Linked DNA regions of Homo sapiens. The protein of the gene in region 4 interacts with the protein of the main gene of each other region in a biochemical or structural test. Each region holds a gene or a part of one and is shown on either strand. Other genes may lie near its edges. The genes, in order: SNX9, CLTA, PACSIN2 and SYNJ1.

The links.
Region 1: the proteins of SYNJ1 (region 4) and SNX9 interact in a test that uses a peptide from one of them, tested with the Homo sapiens proteins (one study listed by IntAct).
Region 2: the proteins of SYNJ1 (region 4) and CLTA form a complex in vitro, tested with the Homo sapiens proteins (one study listed by BioGRID).
Region 3: the proteins of SYNJ1 (region 4) and PACSIN2 form a complex in vitro, tested with the Homo sapiens proteins (one study listed by BioGRID).

Annotation. Positions count from the first base shown.
Region 1 is NC_000006.12:157,896,218-157,903,247, forward strand, and holds part of SNX9 (sorting nexin-9), read left to right. Parts: intron 1-609; coding exon 610-781; intron 782-5,680; coding exon 5,681-5,828; intron 5,829-7,030. UniProt on the Homo sapiens protein: Involved in endocytosis and intracellular vesicle trafficking, both during interphase and at the end of mitosis. Required for efficient progress through mitosis and cytokinesis. Required for normal formation of the cleavage furrow at the end of mitosis.
Region 2 is NC_000009.12:36,207,895-36,212,563, reverse strand, and holds the end of CLTA (clathrin light chain A), read right to left. Parts: exon of another isoform or gene 4,010-4,669; intron 3,298-4,009; coding exon of another isoform or gene 3,244-3,297; intron 1,940-3,243; coding exon of another isoform or gene 1,904-1,939; intron 962-1,903; coding exon 790-961; 3' UTR 505-789; downstream 1-504. UniProt on the Homo sapiens protein: Clathrin is the major protein of the polyhedral coat of coated pits and vesicles.
Region 3 is NC_000022.11:43,012,125-43,019,876, forward strand, and holds the start of PACSIN2 (protein kinase C and casein kinase substrate in neurons protein 2), read right to left. Parts: upstream 3,026-7,752; 5' UTR 2,897-3,025; intron 1-2,896.
Region 4 is NC_000021.9:32,641,010-32,648,039, forward strand, and holds part of SYNJ1 (synaptojanin-1), read right to left. Parts: intron 5,594-7,030; coding exon 5,384-5,593; intron 4,781-5,383; coding exon 4,637-4,780; intron 3,998-4,636; coding exon 3,959-3,997; intron 2,449-3,958; coding exon 2,401-2,448; intron 1,125-2,400; coding exon 1,086-1,124; intron 958-1,085; coding exon 887-957; intron 1-886. UniProt on the Homo sapiens protein: Phosphatase that acts on various phosphoinositides, including phosphatidylinositol 4-phosphate, phosphatidylinositol (4,5)-bisphosphate and phosphatidylinositol (3,4,5)-trisphosphate. Has a role in clathrin-mediated endocytosis.

The DNA.
Region 1 (7,030 bases), on a different chromosome or scaffold from region 4:
CTCAGGATGTTAGGCGTATTTCTCAAATTGCATATACTTTTATTGTTTGAATTTTTTTTATTATACATGTATTCCATTTCAAATTAAAAAGCCTACTTAAAAATACAACAGATCGCTATAAAGCAGTTAGAAATAGGTCCTCATGTTGAGTGGGAAAAAGAAAACTTGCAAAGAGATACATACAGTATGACATCCTTTAGGTCAATTTTAAAAATATAAAGCAGTTGTTTGTGAATGTGTACATGTGCAGCTGAAGTATGAAAACACACATAGGAATGGATACAGGTTCAGAAAAGTAGTGGTTACTTCTGGAGAGAAAGAAAGAGAGGGCTGTAGCTGCATCTAATAGTTTCTTTGTTGCTGTTTTCAAAGTTCCTAAGCAAATACGGTAAAATGTGTTCACATCAGTAAAATTAGATTGATGCTACCTTTTGTGCTTTCCTACATGTTTGGAAATTAAAATATTATGTATGTAAAATTGTTTTGAATACATTTCTATTAATTGTTTTTAGTACTCCTGTTGTATTCAATTGTGTCAGTTCATTATTGAATTGAGTCATGGTTTCCAAAAGTCACAAAAATTCTCCTTCTTTTTACCCCTCTCAATAGGTTGGCAGTGGCAATGACCCCTGGTCAGCCTGGAGTGCCTCCAAATCTGGGAACTGGGAAAGCTCAGAAGGCTGGGGGGCCCAGCCAGAGGGGGCTGGAGCCCAAAGAAACACAAACACTCCCAACAACTGGGACACTGCCTTCGGCCACCCCCAGGCCTACCAAGGACCAGGTGAGGAGAGGGGTGCAAGGTCCCACCCTGCCCGCCCATGGCTGAGTGGGAGAGACAGGGAAGACCGAACTGTTTTTGCTGTTCCCACACTCAGCACAACACAGAACAGTTTTGTGACCACAGCATGGGAAGGGAGGATTGCCCCACCCACCAAGCAGCTGTGCAGCAGACACCAGCTGAGTGTCCTACAGTCATGACACTGTCTACCTGGAGTCAGATCAAGGGGGTTCCCACCACTCCCACCTTGGGTTCAATTAATCTGCTGGAGCGGCTCACAGAACTCAGGGAAACACTTTACTTACTACTGTCAGTTTATTACAAAGCTCAATTTACAGGATGCAAATAAAGAGCCAGATGAAGAGATGCATAGGGCGAGGCATGGGGAAGGGACGCAGAGCTTCCATGCCCCCCTGCCCCAGGTGCCCCTACATGTTCAGCACCCCAGAATCTCTTTTCCTGTAGCTCAAGGATTTTTACGGCGGTTTCATCACATAGGCATGATCGATTATTGTTATTATTATTCTTTGAGACAGAGTTTTGCTCTCGTTGCCCAGGCTGGAGTGCAGTGGCACAATCTCGGCTCACTGCAACCTCCGCCTCCCAGGTTCAAGTGATTCTCTCACCTCAGCCTCCTGAGTAGCTGGAATTACAGGAGCCCACCGCCCACCGCCACACCCGGCTGATTTTTTGTATTTTTATTAGAGGCAAGGTTTCACCATGTTGGCCAGGCTGGTCTCAAACTCCTGACCTCAGGTGATCCACCTGCCTCAGCCTCCCAAAGTGCTGGGATTACAGGTGTGAGCCACCATGCCTGGCCGGCATGATTGATTATTAACTCAACCTCTGGCCCCACTTTTCTTTCCAGAGAATGGGAGGTGGAGCTGGAAGTTCCAAGCTTCTAATCCTGGCTTGGTCCTTCTGTTGACCAGCCCCCATCCCACCAGGAGTCACCTCATTTGAACAAAAGATGCTCCTACCACCCGGGAAATTCCAAGGGTTAGGAGATCTGTGTCAGGAGCCAGGGTCAGAGACCAAATATCAGAACAAAAGATACACCTTGCACACCTAACATTCAGGAAGTTACAAGAGTTTTAGGAGCTCTGTGCCGGGAACTAGGGACGCAGACCAGATGGCTATTTCTTACCTCACAATACCACTCTGGGTCATTGAGTTGAAAATAGATTTTATTCAAAAGAACTGCTTGCAGTTGCCCTTATTCACTAGTAGCAAACCTGGATTCAATTGTAGATGGTCATTAACTCTAACTTTAGTTCAGTCTTACTTATCTGTGTGAAGTCACAGATTCAAACGCTGGGTTGGTAAAGTAAAAGCAGAATGGGCGGTGGAGGCTGCAGAAGGCTGAGGGCCCCTGCTGTCGCCCGTGGATCACTGCATTTGCAGGGAAGCTGAGCCCACGTTCTGATCTCCACATCTTCAGAGAGATGAGAAGTCTTGGTTATTTGTCACCTTCTGATTTTAACATCTCAGCAGCTAACACGTTTGTTTTAAAATCTTGAGCCAGAAACGTGTATGTGGATGGGATGTGGCTCATCCTGCTGGTTTAAGACCTCTGCATTCACTGTTTTAACTTCCTGTTTGACTAGGCTATGAATAGAAATACTGAGGCAGAAGAGAAATGTGTGGAATGGGAAATAATTTGGGAATTAAGGGTATTTATGTCTGATCTGAAATTAAATAAGAAGGTAGTCTCCCATTATTTTTTAACAATTCCTGAACCCTGTCTCCTCTGTAAGCACATTGGGCCAAGAATTGAATGTCTGTTCTAAACAGCAAGGACCTCACTTGTAAGCCCAAAGCAGGGTGCAGGTCCCGGCTGAAGGCTGGCAGTCATAGACAGGAGCTGCCTGTCAGCAGGACCAGGGGTGTGGGCTGGGTAGAAGCGTTGGGAGACTCCTGGGGTCTGGCTCTCTGGTCACTTGGCCCACATCCTTCTCATAGTTTGTTCTTCTCCCATTTGGCATTTGTCTCTCGGCTTCTCCATAATGGCACTCTTAGGACCTGACACTAAAGGACACTCAGGCCGTTAGAGTAGGGGAGGAAGGAGAAGGAGGAGAGCCCACAGGGGAGGAAGGAGAAGGAGGAGAGCCCACAGGGGAGGAAGGAGAAGGAGGAGAGCCCACAGCACCTTATCTGACACGGGGATTATTGTCAGAATAGTAGCTACTGATGCTGCTTAATTACTTCTTCACTCTCATCTTTTTCTCCCACACCCCAACTCGGTCTTTTTAATGTCCCCCTCGTTGCCCTTCTCTCCCCTTTATTGTTAGTGTTAAACAGCTGCTTTTCAAAGTTCTGTCGTCCCTTTCGTCCTCCCCAAGCCTCTAGAATTAAAGGGTATTCTGCTTATTTGTAAATGTATAAGACTAGATTTATCAGTGTCTAGGCCTCTAGAAGTCTTTTCTACTGTGTACCACTTAACATTCTTACAGTCTGCATTTATCTGAAGTGATGTGGACTGACAGCCCTTTAAAAAAATTATCTATATTTTCACGCCTGTAATCCCAGCAGTTTGGGAGGCCGAGGCAGGCGGATCACAAGGTCAGGAGATCAAGGCCATCCTGGCTAACACGGTGAAACCCCATCTCTACTAAAAATAGAAAAAAAATTAGCCGGGTGTGGTGGCAGGCGCCTGTAGTCCCAGCTACTCGGGAAGCTGAGGCAGGAGAATGGCCTGAACCCAGGAGGCGGAGCTTGCAGGGAGCCAAGATTGCGCCACTGCACTCCAGCCTGGCCAACAAAGCGAGGCTCCGTCTCAAAAAAAAAATTATCTATATTTGAGGTATACAGCGTGATGTTGTAATATACATGTATATACTGAAATCATTACTACAGCCAAGCGCTTAACATATCCCTCACCTCACATGATTACCTAAGTGTGTGTGTGTGCGCGTGTATATGTGCAAGTGCGTGCCTGTGGGTGTGTGTGTGGTAAGAGCACCTAAAATCTCCCTCAGCAGGTTTCCCAAATATAATGCAATATCATTAACTGTAGTCCTCATGCTGTACATGAGATCTCTAGACTTATCCTACATGACTGCAACTTTGTACCTTTGACCTGCATCTCCCTAGTTCCCCGTCTCCCTGCCCCTGGTAACCACCTTTCTACTTTCTGCTTCTATAAGTTTTTTAGATTTTTTTAAAGACCTGTTAAAAGTTCCACATGTAAATAAGATCCATGTGGTATTTTTCTTTGTGTGTGATGTTGAGTGCATTTTCATATACCTCTTGGCCATTTTTTGGTCTTCTTTGGAAAAATGTCAATTTGGGTCCTTTGTCCATTTTTTAATTGAGCTTTTTTTATTTGCTATTGAATTGTGCGAGTTCATTATATGTTTTGAATATTAACAGGTTATCAGATACATGGCTCGCAAATATTTTCTCCCAGCCTATTGCGGGATCTGGCCAGCAGCCCGCAATGCAACGGGGTTCTCTTTGTGTTCCCAGGCGGATCGGCCCGTTGAGAAATAATAGACACACACAAGATAGCGAAAGCTGGGTCCGGGGGGGTCACTGCCTTCTGGTCCTGCAGTGCCAACAATGCACTGGATATACCAGCATTTATTATTAAGTTTAGTGAGGGCGGGGGTAGGTTAGTGAGGGATTTAGGGTCATTTGATTATGAGGTGAGATGGTCACATGGGGATGAAGTAATTCTTTAACATAACATCTGTATGCAGAAGTACAGTATACAGAGATAAGAATTTACAATATAGTGTATGCATCAGTAATTTCTGACAGAGCCTTAAAACAGAAACACAGTCTTTCCATAACCTATGATTAGCAAGATATTAATCAGCAGTAACAGTTGCAGCAAAAGCTGGTTACAAACAATCCGTAGAAACAGGACGTGAAGCTAGACAACCTGTTAGACCAGAAATTCTCAGAAGGGAGTATGCCTTAACCCTAAAGAGGCCCAGAAGAGCCCTGGCAAGATGAGGGCGTTTATAGCCCTATCTTATCCATATGGACGGTGCCCCCATGTGTCTGTTTATAGGCTCTTTACAAGGGTCACTTTCCATTCCCAGAGCTATGAATATCTGCTTTTCTGGGATAGGAATCTTGGTGATGTGAAACCTCCCTGACTGCACATCCATTCATAGGCTCTCTGCAGGGGGAAGCACATCACATGCTGTTGGCTCATTCTGGCAGTCCCACCTGGCACTGTCTTTACACAATCCTGCATGCAATTTTGTATTTACAATAATCAGGAGCATTTCATCTTTTATTCCATAGCAATAGTTTCAGGGGGTCTCCCTACACCAGCCCATAGGCTACCTTTTCATTTTGATTGTTTCCTTTGCTGTTCAGAAGCTTTTTAGTTCCATGTAGTCCCGCCTGTTATTTTTGACTTTGTTCCCTGTGCTTTTGGTGTAATACTCAAAAAAACATTTGCCAAGGCCAGCGCCAAGGAGCTTTTCCCCTGTGTTTCCTTCTAGGAGTTGTGTGGTTTCAGGTCTTCCATTTAGGTCTGTAATCTATTTTAAGTTGATTTTTGTGTGTGGTGTAAGACAAGGTCCAGTTTTATTCTTTTGCATGTAGATACCTGGTTTTCCCAGCACGACTTACTAAAGAGACTGCCCTTTCTCCACTGTGTCATCTCGGTGCCCGTGTCAAAAATTTAAAAGTAATCTGATAGCCCTCTTTAAGTTGCTTCTGATTTGTCTTTTGCACTAAAAGAATCTGTAATTCAAGGCTTAAAATTGACTACACAGCCTTTACTCTTAACATCCATATTATACTCCTATACTATACCCTTTTCTCCATCAAAAAAAAATTGATTTGCCCAGTAGGTAGTTACTGTCAGAAAATTAAGTAATTTCATTTTTATTTTGGTCTTTTTTTTTTTTTTAACTGATGATCTTCCATTTTCACCTCTAGCAACTGGTGATGATGATGACTGGGATGAAGACTGGGATGGGCCCAAATCCTCTTCCTACTTTAAGGATTCAGAGTCAGCTGATGCAGGCGGCGCTCAGCGAGGAAACAGTCGTGCTAGTTCCTCATCCATGAAAATTCCCCTTAACAAGTAAGTTTAAAGGGGAGCCAGGGAACCAGGGCCGTGGTAGAAGTATACATTAATACAAAGTATATACCCTACCAAGAGGCAGCTGGCCTTTTCCCTTTCCAGTGATCTCCTAAGTTTTGGATATGATTCAGTTATTTTTATTTGGATCTTAACTGAGAAGCTTACTTAAAAAAAAAAAAGGATTTTTGATTTACAAGGTTAATAAGTGAAATATTTATTTTATTTAATGATTTCCCAAACTGTTTTCATTACTTCTAGCTTTATCAATTTATGACATATTAAGGTTTCATTGCTAATGTCACAGGAAAGCTAAAAAGAATAATAATAACAACTCTCTTTTAAATGTTTTACTGTTTTGTTAATCACTTGCCATGTGCCAGGCATTGTGCAGAGAGGTTTGTATCATTCGCATGTAGCCCTCATATCCCTTTGTGGTACATAAAACCCCTGTTTTACTGCAGGCAAACTGATGCCCAGAGAGACGCATCGAGTGTTCCAGTCAGGAAGCCAGGCCCTCAGGCGCCAAAGCACGTGTTTCAGCTCCTGTGCCTAAAAACGTGGTCCGGAGCTTTGTGTTAGCTTAGGTTTCTCTTAGATTTAAAACAAAAAAAAAAGTGTTGTGTTTTATTTTTTTGTTTTGAGACAGGCGTCTCGCTCTGTCACCCAGGCTGAAGTGCAGTGGTGCGATCTTGGTTCACTGCAACCCCAACGTCCCGGGTTCAAGCAATTCTCGTGCCTCAGCCACCTGAGTAGCTGGGATTACAAACATGTGCCACCGCGCCCAGCTAATTTTTGTATTTTTAGTAGAGACGAGGTTTTACCACGTTGGCCAGGCTGGTCTCAAGCTCCTGGTCTCAAGTGATCCGCCCGCCTCTACCTCCCAAAGTGCTGGGATTACAGGCTTGAGCCACCACACCTAGCCAAAAAAAAAAAGTTTTTAACAGTACTTGTAGATACCCTACTTAACAGGAAAGCATGTGGGCACCAGTGACCACTGTAGGATTCTTTGGAGAGACCTAAATAAGGCTGTAGTCTATGCCAGTGTAGCTTGAAGGAGATATATTAGTAATTTATGACTTCCATCAGAATTTTCAAGTACTCCTTCCAGCAGTTATGTTTAGTTTATTTTTTGAAATTACTAATACTTTTTCCCAATATTCCAATTCCATGATTCAAGGCAGATATCAAAGAATGTTAATCTG
Region 2 (4,669 bases), on a different chromosome or scaffold from region 4:
CAAGAGAAATATGAACCAAGTGCTTGGGATGGCACAGAACCCAACATGTGCTACAGGACTCAACAGTAATGGGGCTAGCCACACATGAATGCCGTCCTGACTCAGGCTTACTGGCCGGATCCAAAGGAGTCAAGGTCTTACTAGAGTCTACGTGCCCCACAGACTCCTGCCGAAATATACTATCCAAGACCCTAAACTGAGGGACACTGGCAAGCAAGAGCCCATCTGGGAGAAAACGACTAGGTTGGTGAGAGGATTCACAGCTGTGTCTTAGGTAGATAATGAGGGGGTTAACCTTCAGCCACTAAACTCCCTTCTCAAATGAAAATGTCCACAGGATCCCACTCTAGATCCCGGTGCTATCTTAGTTCAAGGCAGGGCTGTGTGCCCAGTGGCTGTGCCTCCTCAGCCCTAGAAATTTCAAGGAAATTCCTCCTGGAAATTCCTTCCAACCTCACTCCAAACTACAACACATCTTGAGGTCAATAAAGAAGCTTCACATAATACAGTTTGAAACAGAAATTTATTCTCAGAATAATGCACAGAAGCACAGGTTGAGGCTACTCTTGGGAAGCTTCCCTCCCCTTCCTCTTCCTCCTCTCCCTCCTCTCTGAATGCCAGGGAGAACACAGTTGAAGGAAGGAAACATGCAATCACAAACAATGAACAACTCTAAAGACAAAAAGGTTTGGTCCAAAAGAACTCAACATAATTAATCCAATGACTGTGAAGAGCTTCACTGAGTAGGATTAAGATATTGCAGATGTAGTGTTTCCACAGGGTGGCTCTTCAGTGCACCAGCGGGGCCTGCTTGAGGGAGATGAGGACTGAGCGCATGCGGGAGACATCTTTGGCCTGCTTGCTAGACTTGGGGTTAAAGTCACACAGCCGGGCCACCCGTTCCCACTCAGTGCCTGGGGACGACTCGTCAATGTCATTTACAAAGGCTTCTTCTGCTGCCCTGGAAGCAACAACAAAATATGTTGGTTTATGCAGAACCCCCTTTGAGCAACCTGGTGGCTGCCTTGCTACACAAGCAACTGCCTATTTGTCCCTTTCTTAATGACATTCTGGCTTTCCCAAGATAACAGCCCCTGGCCCAGGTCAGACTCAGGTAGACACGTAGCTGGCTCTCCTAGGCACAGGGTGCCCAGACCGCTGTGTAAAATGTTGGAATACAGGTGTTTGGTTCAAGGCTCACTATGTCTCTCTGTCTGTCTCTGCTCCTGTGGAGCATTAATAAAACAAGTCCTTAGCCAGCTACACACTGCTTTTATTAATAAGAACAAAGCAGCAGGCTGATCAAGAACTTGAGTAGTTTATGCTGGGCTGTACTGAATTTCAAGGAAATTTAGAGACTTCTAAAAAGCCCACAGATCATTGCACAATAGCCTCTAGATTTATTCCTAAGGCTGGAGAGAAACGGGGCAGATCAAAAGGAATTCAAGACAAAGCTCCCATGCTAGCAAGCACTAGAGACTAAAGCCATTCTGGAAGGGGGTTTGTTAGGACATTCTCCAGTTCAGCCAAAAGTTTGCCATTTTCCCTCCAGCCAGGTGCCTTGGGGCCACTCAGGGCACACTGGCAGGAGAGCCAACGTGAGTTGCTTTTTGGCAGGATGCTGCTCCAACATTCTTTCACATCAAGGTCAGCCCACCCCCAGTTCGGAATTAACTGGTGGGAGCTACAGCCGGAAAGGACAGCGCTAAGACACACTATATTCATCTACTCCAACAAGCATCACGGGCAAAGCAAAAGCAATGGAGATGACTGGTCTGTGGGGACGGAGGGGTGGCACTATCACAGGGATGGCCGTGGCAAACACCGCTGAAGCCCAGAGCCACTACAACACTGCGACTTCATGGCACACACAGTTAGGGGCAGTGAGAAAGGTTTACTTAACTGTTCTAGGCTGTAGCAAGGATGGTTTATGTTTGTGCTTAAAGGTGAAGAGAAGAAAAGAAACGAGAGAAACTTTAAGTCAGATATAGAAAATGAGAATGAGCTCAATGCAGATGGTCAGTAAGCTGGACATGCCCTTGCCACTCTATCTGTGCTTGGGGACGTGCAGCTGGCTTTGCTGGCCACCCAGCTGCCCAGCAAAACCAGACTCGACCTTTCCAGTCTCCATTTCTACTCCAGAGAGAATGTGCAGAAATCAAATCAAACACCACCTGTAAGTCCAGCATTTCACAAGTCTCACTGCAAATGCATCTGGGGGCCCAGGAAACCCAGTTCTATCTTCTAAGGGGATGAACATCTCAAGGTCATAGGCCCTGAGAGGCTCTACAGACCTGAGCTCATCGCCCACCTTCCACAGGTTCCTCTCCTCTTCCATTCCACCCTTACTTCTCATGTAAAGCCAGCCCTAATTTTTAAGGAGGAGACAATGAGAACTGTTTCCAACTCTTCAGCAATACTGCTTTGATAAAAGAAATCCTTAAAAAAAAGAAAAAAGAAAAAAAGAAAAAAAAAAGAATAAGAAAAACACCTTCTCCAGAGAAGATGCAGGTTTCTTTTGGGGGGGTCAGGGGGAGAAGCCCAAGTGGCCCGTATCAAGACACTTTGACTATCCTGATCTCAAAGCTGGGGGCTTCCCTGTGCTAGGAGACAGGACATCAGAAGCTGACCACTAAATAGCAATTTCTGACATGCAAGACCACAGAGGAACAATTATAGACACCCACTGGAGACAACCCCCTCTGCTCTGGACTCTTCTGCCTGAGGGAGAGGCAAACGACCCCACATTGTTTGAATGAACCAAGTATGGAAAATGCTGCCCCACAGCTCTGATTTTGGCAATGCAAGGTGCTGCTGCTCACTGGCTCCTAACCTCCTGGGACTGCCACCTGCTCCCAGGTGGGGAAACCTCCTTCCCACCTGAGGCAGGCAGGCAACAGGGCATGGCAGCAGTGATGGCAGCCAAGAGCAAGAGAGCAGAGTTCCCCCGAGCCTCAAACCGTTCCCAGATAAGATCGCAAATGACACATTTTGAAAGCGAGTTAGCTTTCTTCCCTCCAAAACCCCAAATATGAAAAATGGCCATCAGAGGATGCAGGGAGTCACAAATCTGGAAGATTCATCAACAGATCATACCCCGCTTATCAATTCTTAGGCAGCCCCCAAAGTGCCAATTTGAAATAATTTAAAAAGCAAAGCAACTTGTGACATAAAAGGAGCATTAACTCTAAACAAAAGTAGAAAGAATCAGATGTAGAAAAAGGAATTAGTTTTGCAACATACACATAACCAATCACGTCAGCGAAGGGTTGTTTGTAGAAAGCTTCATCTGCCACCCTAGACAGCAAGAGGTCCAAAAGGCAGGCAAGCAGGCAGGAAAAAAGAGAGAACATTGAGAAGCAGAAACATCTAAAATCCACAATTGAGGTACAACTGTGCTCTGAGGAGCTGCTCCCAAGGCTCCTTCCTAACCCCCGTGAGGCTTCCAGCGCTGGAGACTTCAGCAGGCCTGGTTTCCCGCTGGCCTTCCCACGTGGGGACTGCTCCACGACAGAGCAAGCACTGCCAACTTCATCCCTTTGGCTCACCCCAGCAACACGGGCATTTATTAAGCACCCAATCATGGACTAAGCCCTTTCACATACATTATGTTGATTCAATCCTTAACTGTTAACAACCTATGACCCTGACTGTTCTCACCCCCACTGTACAGATGAGGTAACTGAGGCTTAGAGATGAACAACTTGCTCAGCTACACCACAGTGGCAGCATTCAGGACTCACAACCAAGGCAGCCTGGCCCTAAGTCCAGGGCTCTTTCTACTGTATAGTCATGCTTCTTCCCTGCTGTATGTGCCCAGAAAGCCACGCCACCTTCCTGTTTCAGTTAATGCACTGGGCAGGAATGCTGCCAGACACCAGATGCGCTAGGACCCAAAGCCAGTTTTATCTTGGATTATCTAACTACTGCTTCCCCACACTGTCTGGGTGGGATACACTTCCAGAATCCTGGGAACACATATCGTCATTTTAAAATCTCAACCTTACAGGAAAAAACGGCTGGAGGTGAGTGGTCTGGTGGGAAGAACACTGGACTAGGATCCTGGCCCTGGCTTCTGTTGTTCCTGAATATGGCTCTCTCTCTACTCAAGAAGCGGGTACAGTTTCTGAATATTTTTACACCAGACTCAATTGGCTTTGATAAGGTGCAGCCCAGAATCCAGAACTTCATCCCTTCTTAACTCTCAACATGGCAGGGCTCTCAGACAGGAAGGAGGGGGCAGACTGGGTGGATAAATTTTGACAGCAGGGGCCAGGCTGGCTTTGACTCTGTTGTCCTGGACTGACTCCCTGGGCTCTGCCAGCCCACTCTTCTCCACTGTGGCTGGACATGGAACCTCCCTCATGGAGTCTTACCCTGTCCTTTGTCAAGTCGATTTGGGGTGGGCAAGGGGAAAGACATTTTTCAAGGATAATCATGCCTGGTCATTAAGCTAACCTCACATACTTATTTGAAGGCAAATTCTAGTAATTTTAAGTTAATTTTTAAGCTCACACATGCCCTTCCTTCTTTCCCATTTTGTTTTATACACAGGAGGTGTTTTGTGGAAATTTAAAGAAAGCAAAAAGAGCAGGCTGATTATAACTTAAAGTGACTCAGCAGGAAAACAGAGTTGTTTGTGGGCAGAATGAGTGGGAGGAAAAGGCAA
Region 3 (7,752 bases), on a different chromosome or scaffold from region 4:
CAGAGCGAGACTCTGTCTCAAAATAAATAAATACATACATACATACATACATACATACATACATACATACATACATACAAACATACAAAAACTAGCCAGGCAAGGTGGCAGGCGCCTGTAATCCCAACTACTGAGGAGGCTGAGGCAGAGGAATCATTTGAACCTGGGCAGAGACTCTCTCTCAAAAAAAAAAAAAAAAAAAAAGCAAGGACAAATGCCCCTCTGCTCCCACTCCAGAAATGCCTGGCCATCAGAGATGTGGATGGGTATCCAGGATTAGGGAAAAGTTCATGTTATCTCCCTGCAGAATGCTATGTTGGTGGAAATCCAGAATTTTTTTTAAATATATGCATACTTTTAGATTTATTTATTTTTAAACAGAGTCTCACTCTGTCACCCAGGCTAGAGTGCAGTGGTGTGATCTCAGTGCACTGCAACTTCCATCTCCCAGGTTCAAGCAATTATCATGCCACAGCCTCCCAAGTAGCTGAGGCTGAGATTACACGTGTGCACCACTACGCCAGACTAATTTTTTTTTTTTTTTGAAACAGGAGTTTTGCTCTTGTTGCCTAGGCTGGAGTGCAACGGCCGGATCTTGGCTCACCGCAACCTCCGCCTCCTGGGTTCAAGCAATTCTCCTTCCTCAGCCTCCCAAGTAGCTGGGATTACAGGTATGAGCACCACCACACCCAGCTAATTTTGTATTTTTAGTAGACATGGGGTTTCTCCATGTTGGTCAAGCTGGTCTCGAACTCCCGACCTCTGGTGATCCGCCCGCCTCTGCCTCCCAAAGTGCTGGAGATTACAGGCGTGAGCCACCACGCCCGGCCTTAATTTTTGTATCTTTAGTAGAGACGGGGTTTCACCATGTTAGCCAGGCTGGTCTCTAAGTTCTGACCTCAGGTGATCTGCCCGCCTCGGCCTTCCCAAGTGCTGGGATCCCAGGCGTGAGCCACCCCGCCCAGCCTAGATTATTTAAATATCACATCACAACTTCATATACATTTGAGATTAAAAGTGATAAAGTTCCAAGTCCCAAAGCAGCACGAGCTAAGGATACCATTTCCATTCAAATGAGTTGTTATTCTTCTCCCAAAAAGTGGATAAAGAGTGCAGACCTAATCACCCATCTACTTCTCTGTGTTATGTTACTTTCCCAAGTAATAAATATCACCAGCCTAATGGCCACTTTCTTTAAAGCTTTAAGTCTATTGTCAAAAGAAAAACACACCAATGTTTTTGATGTAGTGGCCTCATATCTCAACCAGCATAACCTCACCAAAGAGGCTACCAAACTCTAGAATTAAGTTTAAGTCCACACAAGTGAAAGTTTTCCAGGTGAATCAAGAGAGATCCAAGTTGCACTGGCACAGCTTCAATGTCTCCATGAGGAGGCTGCATGCAGGCAGGCTCATGAATCAAGTGGAACGACAACATCTTGGGCAAGAACAGGAGGGCTGGCATTCAACACTGCCTGCCTGGTCGGTTCCCTTGCCCTGGGCTCCAACCTGGCAATCCCAGGAGGGTTAAAACAGAACTTCAGCACACGGGAATAACCGCAGAGGAAGGCACCGAAAAGGAGGGAAGGAAGAAGGTGTGAGCTCACCATCTGCAGCTGAGGTTCAAACTCTTTGAGCTGGTTTCCTGATTTTCATCAAGACAGCCAGGCAGTATTTGGTAAACAGTGTACCAAGTAGCCCTGGAGACTCTGAGCAGCCTACCCCCTTAACCACAAAAACACCGGACAGGCGGAGGGAAAAAGAGAAGACAGGATCCAGGAATGGTGCACACACCCAGCCAAAGGCCACCTTCCCTCAGGCACCCAAGCCAAGAGTGGCATCCCCAGGTCCTGTTATACGTCAAAGGCTGCAGCCGTGTGGGCCCCAAAGCAATAGCACAGCTTGCTCCCCTGACCAACCAACTCCTTCTGAAAAGAAAATCGACCTTCTCTGATGGAGCCGAAACCCAATGAATCAATGAAATTCAACAGCAGCAGCAATCACTACCTCTCCAATTGCGGACCTCTCAGGATGCCTGGCCAGGCTTGAAAGCCCTAGAGGAGTAAGGAGTTCGGATTTCTGATTCAGTGAGTCTGGGGAAACTCTGAGGAGGGTCACAAGGGCAAACCTCCCCGGCCTCTCCTGCTTGGCCCCAGCCCTAGGACGTGCTGCGGTAAGGGCTTTGCTCCCCCCGCCCTACACACACACACACACACACACACACACACAGACACACACACACCACCCCCCCCCCCCCGGGACACGGAGGGTGGGAAGGAAGGAAATGGAGGCCGCTCATCAAAGCGCCCGAAATCAGCGCACCCGCGTGTGTCCTGCGTCGCCCCCCAGGCCACCCCAGGACTAAGCCCTGCCCTCTCACCGGCGCGTCCCAGCCACGCCTTCCCTCCAGCGTTGCTCCGGCACCCTCGCCTAACCTCTGCACGTCTCGGATTCCCAGCTTTCTCCTAAATCGCGTCCCTCCAAAAGTCGCCCCAGCTCCCCCTTCTGCAGCTGTCTACACCTCCCCCACTCATTAGCAGCTCTTAACCCCCGACGGCCCTGCTCCTGCACTTCCCTCTCCAGCAGGCCCCGGACCCCGGAAAACTGCCCCGCTCCCACAGCGCCGCCCCCATGGGCCCCCGCCCCTTCCCCGAGCCGACCCCACTCGCCCTCGTCCTCCCCAAGATGTCTTCTCCAGGCGCCCCCCGGGGCCCCGAGCACTCGCCCCCTCCCACAGAGACAGGAAGTTCCGCGCGGCCCGACCCGCTTCCCTCAGGGCGCGGAGCTCGGCGCGGCGGCCCTGACGGGGCGCGGGCCCGGCCGCGGACCAGCGCCCCCGCGTCCCGCCCGCGGCGCCCCAACCGTCGCGGCGACCCCTGACCTCGGCGGCCACTCACCTCCCAATCCGTCGCACACTCCGTTCAGGCTGCCACGGCGTCTCCAGACCCAGCTCCGGCCGGGCTCCCGCTACCGCTTTTGCTCCGGCAGCACTGCCCAGCCCTGCCCAGACCCCTGCGGCCGCTTCTGCCGCCAGCCGCGACCGCACCGCCCCCGCCGCTCCCGCTGGGCTCTGTCCATTGGCTACCGGACACCGAGCCCCGCCCCACAGCCTCCCCGGCGCCCCCGATTGGGCCAGATGAGTAGAGAGGCGGCTCACCCCGCGTGAGGACGAGGGAAAGCCCCAGGACGCGCATTGGTGACTTCTCCTGTCAATCAAACGGGGAGTGCCTATTTAATGGGCTGCGAGGGTGGCGCAGATTACTCTCCCAAAGCCGCTCGCTGGTGGTGGTCCTTGAGACGCGCTTCCCGGGGCTGGAGTTTTGCGGTTTCGTCGGCATCCAGGGGTAAGAGGGCGCGGCAGGGCAGCACCGCACCTGACCGGAAGTTCAGGGAAGGTAATCCTACAGTCTTTCAGAAAGTTTCCTCTCCCAAGGGACTCAAAGAAGCTAATGTCGTTAGGAGCTCCTCCGACTTGCGCCAAAAGCGTCATTCCACGTGGACCCGCTTAGTTTAAACGGGGGGTTGGGGGGGCGTATGTTGCTGCTCTCTCTAATAAAATATATTTGGATGGCAAGGCACCAGGCAATGCACACGCATTCTTTCCAATTCTCACAATCACCTTGCATGATAGGGTATTAGCCCCGTTCTGCAGAGGGAAATACTCTTGAAGGAAAATGGAGAGCACTTCCTGAGCACTGTCCTACGCGCTGTCCAAGCACTGCTTCATGTCATCCAGGTGGAGAGGATGGTGAGAGGAACCCCAGGTGAGGGGTGAGCCAGGTAACTTGCTGGGGGTGATGTGGAGTAAAGAGAGTAAATGGCAGAGCCAGGATTAGAAACCCAGGTCAGCCCAACCCTTGAGAATAATAATGATGACTGTGTAGCACTATGGGAAAATGCTTAAACTAAAACGTTAAAAGAAAAAGCCAGATAGAGCCAGGCATGGTGACATGCACCTGGAATCCCAGCTTCTTGGGACGCCGAGGCAGGAGAATCGCTTCAGCCCAGGAGTTTGAGGCCAACCTGGGCCACATAGCAAGACCCAGTTCTCTAAAAAGTAAAATAAAAGAAAATAATAATAAAAGAAAAAGCTAGATACAAAATGGTAGAAACTGTAGAATTGCTGCTACATATAGATAGGTATGAGAAAAGAGTCCACAAAGAAATCTAGTGGTTGTTTACTTTCTAGACTGCTCTGTGGCATTGTCCTTATGACAATAATTGAGAAAGAAACAAAAGAACCGGCTAGGCACGGTGGCTCACGCCTGGAATCCCAGTACTCTGGGAGGCCGAGGCGGGCAGATCACAAGGTCAGGAGTTTGAGACCAGCCTGGCCAACACAGTGAAAGCCTGTCTCTGCTAAAAATACAAAAAATTAGCTGGGTGTGGTGGCATGCACCTGTAATCCCAGCTACTTGGGAGTCTGAGGCAGGAGAATCACTTGAACCTGGGAGGCGGAGGTTGCAGTGAGCCAAGATCACGCCACTGTACTCCAGCCCTGGCGACAGTGCGAGACTCCATCTCAAAAAAAAAAAAAAAAAACCAACACACAGTGCCAGGACAAACCACTGCCAAGAAGTCTCTCCTCATTCTCCAGGACTGAGCCAACAGGGACCTCTTTGCCACCCACAATACCTGTGGACCATTTGTATAGATAGAACTCAGCCATCAGCTCTCAGCACTTTCATATCTGGGTAAGTTCCGCTTACATCGCAATTCCATGCCCTATAAAAATATAGAGCCTTGTCGGGCGCTGTGGCTCACGCCTGTAATCCTAGCACTTTGGGAGGCCGAGACGGGCGGATCACGAGGTCAGGAGATCAAGACCATCCTGGCTAACATGGTGAAACCCTGTCTCTACTAAAAATACAAAAAATTAGCCAGGCGTGGTGGCGGTCGCCTGTGGTCCCAGCTACTCGGGAGGCTGAGGCAGGAGAATGGCGTGAACCCGGGAGGCGGAGCTTGCAGTGAGCTGATATCGCGCCACTGCACTCCAGCCCGGGCAACAGAGTGAGACTCCGCCTCAAAAAAAAAAAGAAATACAGAGCCTCTCCCAAATTTTTGGGGGTTTTTGTTTTGGTTTGTTTGAGACAGGGTCTCACTCTGATGCCCAGGCTGGAATGCAGTGGCACAATGATGGCTCACTGCAGCCTTGACCTCCTAGGCTCAAGCCATCCTCCTGCCTCAGCCTCCCAAGTAGCTGCGACCACTGGTGCGCACCACCATGCCCAGTTAATTATTTTTTAAAATCTTTGTAGAGACAGAATCTCGCCATGTTGCCCAGGCTCGTCTTGAACTCCTGGGCTCAAGCAATCCTCCTGCCTCATCCTCCCAAAGTGCTGGGATTACACGCACGAGCCACTGTACGCAGCCTCTCCCAAGGTTTCTGAACAAGCGTCTGTCATCAGGCCTCCTGCTCTTCCACACACCGCATGCTCACTGGTCTCACCATCATCCCCTTATCCAGTTGCACGAATCCCCCTGCACTCCAAGCACTGCTGAGTCTAGCAGGGGTTCCTGAAGACTGGAAGCTGGAGAGAGGCATCAAGCCTGGCACTGCCCAGCAACAAGACAGGATGCCTCGTGAGCCTTTTTGGCTGCCTGGCCCCAGGAGTCACCACCTGGTCACGTGACCCATGCCACACTCTGGCCACTTCACATGCCTTTGGTTTTCTGCACTCTCCCCCTCTTCTTTTCTCTCCTCCTCCTTCTCAGGACAAACACAAAATTCCTTTCCTTGTCTTGCACCTAGCAGCTTGACATCATTGCCTGAACTCTTTGGGCCTTATACCTTCTGTCCTGGCAGCTTATCAGGGTATTTTTCCAAAGATAGCTCCCCGTTGCCACATGTGAGCACCCCAACTTTGTTCCCCACAAACATTTCACAACATTCCATCCAGCCTCCTCCTTCAGTCATATTTGAACAGGCCTGGAGCCCAATCCTGCCTCCACCCCTTTTCAGCCAAGGGGCCTTGGGCCAGTCACTGCAGCTCTCTGCACCTCTGTGTCCCCTCCGTGATATGGGGATTAGGAAGAGCAACAGGGCTGTGGTAAGGAGTCAAAGCATGGAGAGCTGTTCCGGGCACACGGCTGTGAATGCTGTGTCTGAACGGTGGACATGTGGTCATGCCTTGTCAGCTGCTCCTTCCTTCCCCCAAAATGTGACCATTGCCACAGAGTGCCTGGGACTGAGACTGACCGGCTTTAGTTTAGTCCTTTATTAACCATTTCCCACTAAGCAGCCTGGATAAACAGACAGTCTGGGCTAAAACATACTTGCACAGAGAATATCATATTCTCAAAAAATTTAAAACATCCAGATATAGTTGTATTGCTGAAAATACAGTGATACGTGTATTTTCAGTGTGATAAGTACAGTGATTTATGGATTGTACAGTGATACATGTCTTTCAAGAAAAAAAATCAAAATCAGTTACAGACATTCACTCACTCAATAATTCCAATATTTAGAACGTGCCAGGCAGGGAAGGTGGCTCGGGGTGGACCTGGGTCCTGCTGATGTTCCTGGAAAGATCTGGCAAGGACATAGAGTTTAGAACAGAAGAGGGTGCAGTGGTATTGAAAACAGTGCTGTTTACCTGAGCCAAAATGAGTGGAAGATTACAGAGAGCAAAGATCAGGAGGCAAGAACTCCTCCTGTCCAGGAAGAGAGGAGGGTTCCACTTGGCTGCATTGCAGGCACAAAGAGAAGCCAGGGGAAACAAGGCAGTAAGGCAGCCGAGCGGCAAGGAGCTCTGCGGCCCTGGCAAGTGACTTCACTACTCCAGCCCTTGGTTTTCCCTACTGTAAAACGGGGATAATCACAAAACCTAGTGATTGTTAGCTTAGAGAATCTGTGAGGATTTGTGAGTTCGCTCTGCAATATTCAGCATGGGGCCTGGCACAGGTCATTGTTCAGTGTGTTCAAGGACCCCTGATTTTGTAAAAGTGCTTCAGGGTATATTCACTTTTTTAAATTTTTAATCGTGTCTAAAAGAAAAGCCTGGGCGTGGTGGCTCACGCCTAAAATCCCAGTACTTTGGGAGGCCAAGGCGGGAGCATCACTTGAGTCCAAGAGTTGGAGACCAGTCTGGGCAACATCATGAGATCCTGGTCTCAAAAAAAAAAAAAAAAAAAAAAAAAATTAGACAGACGTGGTGGTGCAGGCCTGTAGTCCCAGGTACTCAGGAGGCTGAGGTGGGAGGATCACTTGAGCCCAGGAGATTGAGGCTGCAGTGAACCAAGATTGCACCACTGCACTCCAGCCTGGGCAACAGAGCAGGACCCTGTCTCAAAAATAAATAAATAAATAAATAAATAAATAAATAAATAAATAAATGGAAAACAAACCTAAGAACACGTGCTGTGCACCAACTGTTAATATTTTGGCCATATCAAAGCACTAACTATGGCGGCTGGAGGAACACATTTCTGAACATACCTCTGAATGACATGCTCACCTGCCAAGTACGTGTAAAGATCTGAATTCTTTGTAAATGTGTCATTGATTAGGAGGCAATTACCCCAATCTCCCTGGCTTTGTTTTGTTTTGTTCCATTCTGGCTGCACATGTCTGCTCACGTCAAATTGTACCAGCAAGTACAATGTTCCACTCCTGCCATGCCCGGCTGGAGCCTGCTCCCAGACAAAGGTAGGTATGGAGCAGCATACAAACAGGGCTTCCCAAGTGGGCACTGGGCACTGCCCAGGTGCCCTGAATTGGGATCAATCCATTCTTTTTTTTTTTTTTTTT
Region 4 (7,030 bases):
TGAAAAAAGGAGGATAAATATTTGAAGAGTAATATTACATATAAAAAAGAACCTTCAGATTGTTAAGTGGACAGCTACAACAGAAAAGACAAAAAGCTTCTATCTTCATAGGAAGTGGTTTCCTCAGTTCTCACAATCTTAATAATCTTAATTTCTAGGTACAGTAATAGCTCTCAGTTTCCTACTCTTCAGATATGGGCCTCTCAGTAGTCCCAGCTCCTACTGGACTAGCCTAAGTCACTGATTACTGGTTTCTATTTGCTCTTTCTCTCTGTTCTTGATTACCTGTTATAGTCCAGAGAAAGTTTTCAAATAATAAAAAACCTATGTGTATAAGAGAACATATAAACATACAGAAAAGACACATTCATCAGGTAGGGAAAAATCCTGTAACAACATCTACTCTCCTATTTCTAATACCTTTACGGAATATGATGAACCTGATCAAGAAAAAAACCAAAAAGAGAAAAAAACCTTTAGAACCAGTTTTACTATACTGAATTTATCATTTTTTTTTCTGAAATGTAATTAAAATCCTTTTTAATGAAGGATTACTTTATATCTTCATTAATTACTCAGGTAAAATGATAAAAAGCTGCCCAAATCCATCATTTCCTCATATACTGAGACTCTTAAGATATTTATTTAGTGACCATAATTGTTTTAAGTGTATCACTTTTATCCAAATAATGAAGTTTGTTATTTTTGAAGAGTATGTTAAAATAATGTTAGAGTCGGAAGATCATCAAGTGCAATTCCCTCATTTTAGAGATGAGGAAATTGAGGCCTTGAAGGGTCACATGATTTCTCCAAGGTAACAAAACTGACTAGTAGTAAACAGGACTTAGAACCGAGACCCCTTGGCCCCAGGCGAGGTTTTACCTACCGGTCTGGCTGTACTGTATCCAGCAGGTCCTGGGCCTGCAAGTCCTGCTTGAGGTGAAGGCTGACTGCGTCCTGGAACAAAGACATCATATCATATATTTAAGTTTAAAAAAATAAACAAGAAACCATGTACTTATATTCCAAGTGTCTATTTCACGGTCCAGTTTTAAGGGTGAATAGCTACATTCAAGTGTTTTTACCTATATTATCTTTCCTTGTTGTTCCAGGGCTTTTGGGTGCTTTGAAGCAAGAAGGGAAAAAAAAATTAGTTGTAAGTTAACAATTAAGCAATATTGCATAACATCAGCTTGCTGTTCTGCTTCATTACCAGCAGAAATGGGGGCATGAGATGGTAACAAAACAAAGCACTTTGCTTTGTATAATGATGAAGGGTATTATCAGTCCTGAATGAAATACTCCAAAAGAGAGAAAAATTACAATATTTAGATAGACCTTTATGGGAGACAAGTGGTGACTTTAGTTTGATATCTCACTCATGGGACCACTTTTAGGGTGGCATTCCCCATAGAACTCTCTCGTGAACCTTGAAAACATACAGTCAGCTGTGTGAATGGTCACAAGATGCGGCACTGCTGCCCCTTAGAGTCTGGCAGACAAGTGGCTTCTGAGCAACAGACAGGACTGCATTTGTCAAATTACACAAGAGGCTCCTAGTAGCAATACTTTAGGGCTTCACGCTGTAGATGTCACTGTGGATAAGGTTATCTTATGATGAGATCTTTCGGATTTCTATAACAAAATCCCATCATTAAGACAGAAGACAGGCATATGTTATTACCAAATATCTGCCTTATGGAAGACAGTGTTAAAAATATGTTCAAACTCATTAGAAAGGTAGCTGAAGGATAAAATGAAATAAATTACTCTTGGAGCCAAAAGGAGTAGGAGTGACTATCAAGGGCAGCATCTTAAATAAACTCTCCTTTTTGTAAAGAAATTCAAGTACAATTGTTATAAGAAATACATCAGCCTTTTAATAACTAAAATCATAACAAATGGCCTCTAGTCTTAAAGGTCTTTTAAACAAATCTGGCTCAGTGCTAATCTATAAAATAGCTATGTTATCTGAAATCAACTACAAAATACTATATTCTTGGATCTGAATTAATAGGGTTTAATTATAATCATTAATTTTTAAAACTTCAGATTAGTAAAGTACATTTCTAAATATTTTACTTATTCTGAAAAGAATTTTGAAGACATTCTTAAACAGTAATTTCACAACCTGGGCATATATAAACTATATATGAAACAGAGTACAAACAACATTAAGGATCTCAGGGAAATTAAATGGATATCCATTAGAAACTATAGGTGACATAGAATGAAGAGAGGAAAAAATACAAGGTATACATAAGGAGGGGAAAGAGAAGTTTACAGCTGGACCAAGAAAAGATTTAGTATGCCTGCAAACACTGCGGGGTGGGGAGGTGGGGCGCTGACACTGAGAAATAAAATGAGAGAACCACTTCTATAATGCAAGAGTCTTGTTACCTTCCATCTCTCTCCTAGCTACCCCAGGACTGGGAGGGGCTCCAATACCTTTTTAGAGAAAGAACAGAAACTATATATTGTTCAGGGCCCACAGCACAGAATGAAAGGCAGGCACACAAGACAATTTCCATAGTAAACTCACTTTTGCAAAAAGGCTCTTTTATTGCTTTAAATTTCTTCAAAGATATCAATACAAACCAAAGTGACTTTAGATGCTTGGCCCAAATCTGAATCCTCCCTTTACTCAAACAGAAGAGTAGAAACAGGATGACAGTTTTCTTTTTATGTATGCAATTACTACCAGTAGGGAATTTAAAAAATATGTTTAATGAAGACCTTTGCTTTAAAAATCATCTTACTCCTTATATCCAGAGCAAGTAAAAACTCTGATATTTGATAGTCAAAAGGAAAGAAATCATAAATTTCTATGAGACTACGTAAGTCTTTTGAAGTTAGTTTTTGATGCATTAATTTTAAAAACTCTAATGTACTATAATGACGTAAAGGAATTATTGTTTATAGGATGAAAAAACATGTTGCAAACACTACTTACAAAAGAATTATGAAGGGGAGCAATTTTTAAAATTAAGACAGATTTCACTGTAATCCACTGGCTTGCCTAACTTTTGACAGATTCATTTTAAATTTATTTTCTACAGGATGTTTTCCTAATTAAAGCAGAAGATAAGCAAAAATTATCATGGAAATTTAAATAAAAGCAGGAGCTTGAAAAGGGAAAAATTAAATGTTTTCTATAAAAGCAGGAGCTTGAAAAGGGAAAAATTAAATGTTTTCTGTAGGTCAATGGAGAAATGATCACTTAGCTGTATTCGGCAGAAGCTGTAATGCTGAAATAATTTAGCTATTCTTATCACACGCAGTCATTAAGATCTACACACAGGCAAAGTCAGTCTGTAGTAAGACCTGAATTGCTCAGCCATGTCACTAGGCAAGCTACAATAGAAACAGACCAGGCTACACATGCACAGTGAGCCTTAGTAACACTGGATTTGTAAAAGTTCTTCTGAGGAATTGTGAAAACTCATCTCATCTTTTCTTGAGATTTAGATTAAATAAACTTGTCAAATGTATAACTCCAACTGAGCTCTGTGAGTTTTCATGTAAACCAAATAAACTATACTTCAAACAAAAAGTGACCCTTTGTGAATAAAAATTTCCTTATGAAGAAAGGAAAAGAAAATCATACAGTTCTTTGCTAATCCAAAAGCTTTTCCACTAGAAAATAAATGTATCACTAATCAGATACTTGGGAAATGTTCTGTATTTACTGTACCTGAATGACTTTTAAAATTAATATAACTTTTGGGTATTAAATCTTTGTAAATGAATCGACCACATTTATTAAAAAAAAAATTAGGCCTGATGAACAATCCCAGCCTACCTGGGAAATGAAAGCCTTTATTAGTTTTATTTGTGGATTAGTTTTAAACTAGAATGTCATTCATTTTGACTTTTATCAAACAAATCTAAAATGTCTTTCAGGTGTAAAACATTAATGAACCACGATTCACACATGCTAACAAATGTAAATGGTTACCTCCAAATTCCTTTCTAGTGGGTGCAGGACTCCTAGCCCCTTATAGTTCATAAGAAAATAGGCAGCAGAAAGGAAATGACATTAAATACAGAAGTGAAATGTCAAAGATTGCTATAGTATCCATGACATCAAGTATCATGCAGGAATTACATATTATCTACGTACTACAAAAACTATTATTCAATGCATATGCTTATAATTGAAGTAACAGCACTATATTTAATTTAAAAGAACATTAAACAAATACATACAATTGTACATTAATACGTATGCTCTCCAGTTTTATTATACTTTTACAGAAATTAGTACATTTTAATTATTTTATGCTTATAAATCATCCAGAAATGAGGATTTTGAAAAAAATTAAACCTAATTTTACCTAAGAACAGTTTACATGCCTAACTAGATCAAATTAGCAAAAACAAAATAAACCTCTCTGGCTGGCTGGTGAGAAGGCAGCTAAAGGCAGCTGTGAAAACACCTTAGAGGAATCTACTCTGCAAACACTCTACCTTGTCTGTTGCGCCTACCATGTTCTTTAGAGAAAAGCTAAGAAATAGCAATAATGATAGAAAAAACTGTAAAATCCAGAAGCTAGAGATTGGAAAACATGCAAAACATTTTAAAATAGAGTGAAGAATTTTACATCTAGCAGAAATGGAAATAAAAGGTTGTCACCTGAAGGCGGAGGAGGTCTCTGTGGGGGAGCCGGGCGTGTGGGAGGGGCGACCGGGCGGGGCGGCGGCGGCCGCTTGGGCTCCAAGGGCTGGGCGGGGTCTTTCTGCGGCAGCGGCGTTGCTGGCTGCGCGTCAATAGGAGAACCTAAAAAGCGCACAGGAGGTAAGAAGATCAGCTTCTAAGTAGCTGTTGACAGAAGGGAACAGTCCTTCATATATATGTGTAATGTTCTATAAAATGTGCACAATGGTGTAAAGAAAGGGCATGTATTTTCAGTATGAATAACAAAAGCAGTCTACTATTAAACTGCCCTTTGGTACCATGGCAGCAATAATGCTACCTCTGTGCTGACTTCTTACCTAGGCCTCAGGTGCTGAAAGCTAATTTACTAAGTGGCCCTATTGATATGCACAAAGTATTGTTTGAGTTAAGCCATTTTGTAGTCTGGCCAGTAGAGAGAAGAAAAAGCTCAAATAGTTAACGGGTTCATACCATAGAAAATCATCAGTTATAAGACATAGACAAACCTAACCACATAGAAAAAAGATTAAGAACAATTGTCATCTAGTGACAGTTATAGCAAGTTTCCTTTCCATTGAGAGCTTATCATCTACAAGTTTTCCTATTCTGTACCGGAGAAAACAGGGTGCACTTTATCACCTAGGTATGAAACTTAAACGATGACTCTCCAACATCAAGCACATTGGCCACAGGAAGCCATACAAAACTTTCAAATAAAATGCATACTCTGTGCACTGGGAGGCCCAGGAGTTCTTGACGGTGCTCGGCTTGGTCTGATGGGAAGGGAAGGTACAGGACCCTCTGATATTGTAGGTGACTGGCAGGGACTAGTTCGGGGTGAAGAGCTGGGGGAAGTACCAAGGCCGGAACTTGAAGATGGCTGGAGATGCTGAGGAAGAAGTTCCTCCACTTCAGCACTATAGTCATCAACATCACCTAAGGAAAAGCAGGCTTGATCAGAGATAACTCCATTTTAACTTGCTCAGAGATTTTTTTCACCTTAGGTTTTAAAAAGTTAAAATACACAAAACAAATATGAACATTATGTCATTGCAAACACACATGGATTAAGCATGAAGGCATGTATAAAACCACAATTAGTAGAAATGCTTGTTTCAGAAGATGTAAAGGTATCTATTGTCTCTGAGCAATAAGATGTCAGGTGACCAACCACTTGGAGCTGGGGTGACCCAATGGGCTTTCAATATGCCCCAGAGCAGCTTCTCCAGTGCAAGCCAACTCAAGTTTCCTGCTCTCCTTCCAAACCTGTCCACTGTGCTCTGTGGAACTGCCCCACTCCCTTGCCTAACCCAGGTCCAGCCTCAGAGTCAACAAGCTCTCAGGAGCCACACAGTCTTCCCCCAGAAGGCTCCTCCCTGCAACCCTCACCCCACAAAGACCCGCTTTGCTTTAATTAAGTAAACACTGGTTCTCCCCCAGGGTCTCCTCATCTCCACTTACTTCTGGGTAGGAAAGTGGGCACAAGGTAACCCTTGCAACCTAACTGCCATTCCAGAACATTAGTCTTCCAACCCTGAACAAAAAGTCCTACTGCTCTGAGGCTATGCCATCAGGAATTTATGTAACATCCTCTACCCCCACTTGCTACAGTCATCTCCAACGTCCATTCTTCCATTTCCTGAACCCACTCACTGAGGACTAAGCAGAGAGCAAGACTGTAAGTCAGGTCCCGCACCATCTTTCTGCGTGGCATCAAAGTCCATGTGGACAACTCGTTCAATAGCAAAATGCCTTGGTCCTATCCTTATGGACATTCGCCTTCACTCCTAACCCTCACCCCTCAGAACTGCACTCTTCTGAAATAATAAACTCAAAAGCTTCACTCTGACTTTGGCCTCCCAGCTTTTCAGTTCTCTCCCTTGGCTACTCCTTCTCTTTTGATTTCTTCAGAAGCCAGGGTTTGATCCCTCTAACTTTTACCTCCATCTGATTCTGCTTTCTTCTGTACCTACCTTCAGATTCTATGGTTCTTCATCTCAAACATTACCCTACTTCACTCTTCTTCCATTGCACGTGCTTGACATAACCCCATCCCTGCACTGATTCCCCTGTTTAATCTTTCTGTGATAACACTTGGATTGCTGACTGCCTCTGCTAAAGAAAACCACCCAGTCCTGACAACTGCAGTCACATTTGAAATTATGCTTTTCAGTCTCTTCTGGCCTAAAGTGCCTGGCAATTCCATGATTTGCTGGTTTGCTCTTCCCCTCACCCTTTGCTCTTCAGGAGCTTTACTGCAAAACTCCTTAACCCTCCTGAAACTGTGAGCTGTCCCACTCCTGCAGATCACTTCAACACTTCACAGAGAAGAGGGAAGTCTTAAGATGGGAACCCCTACTTCAACAGCCTGCC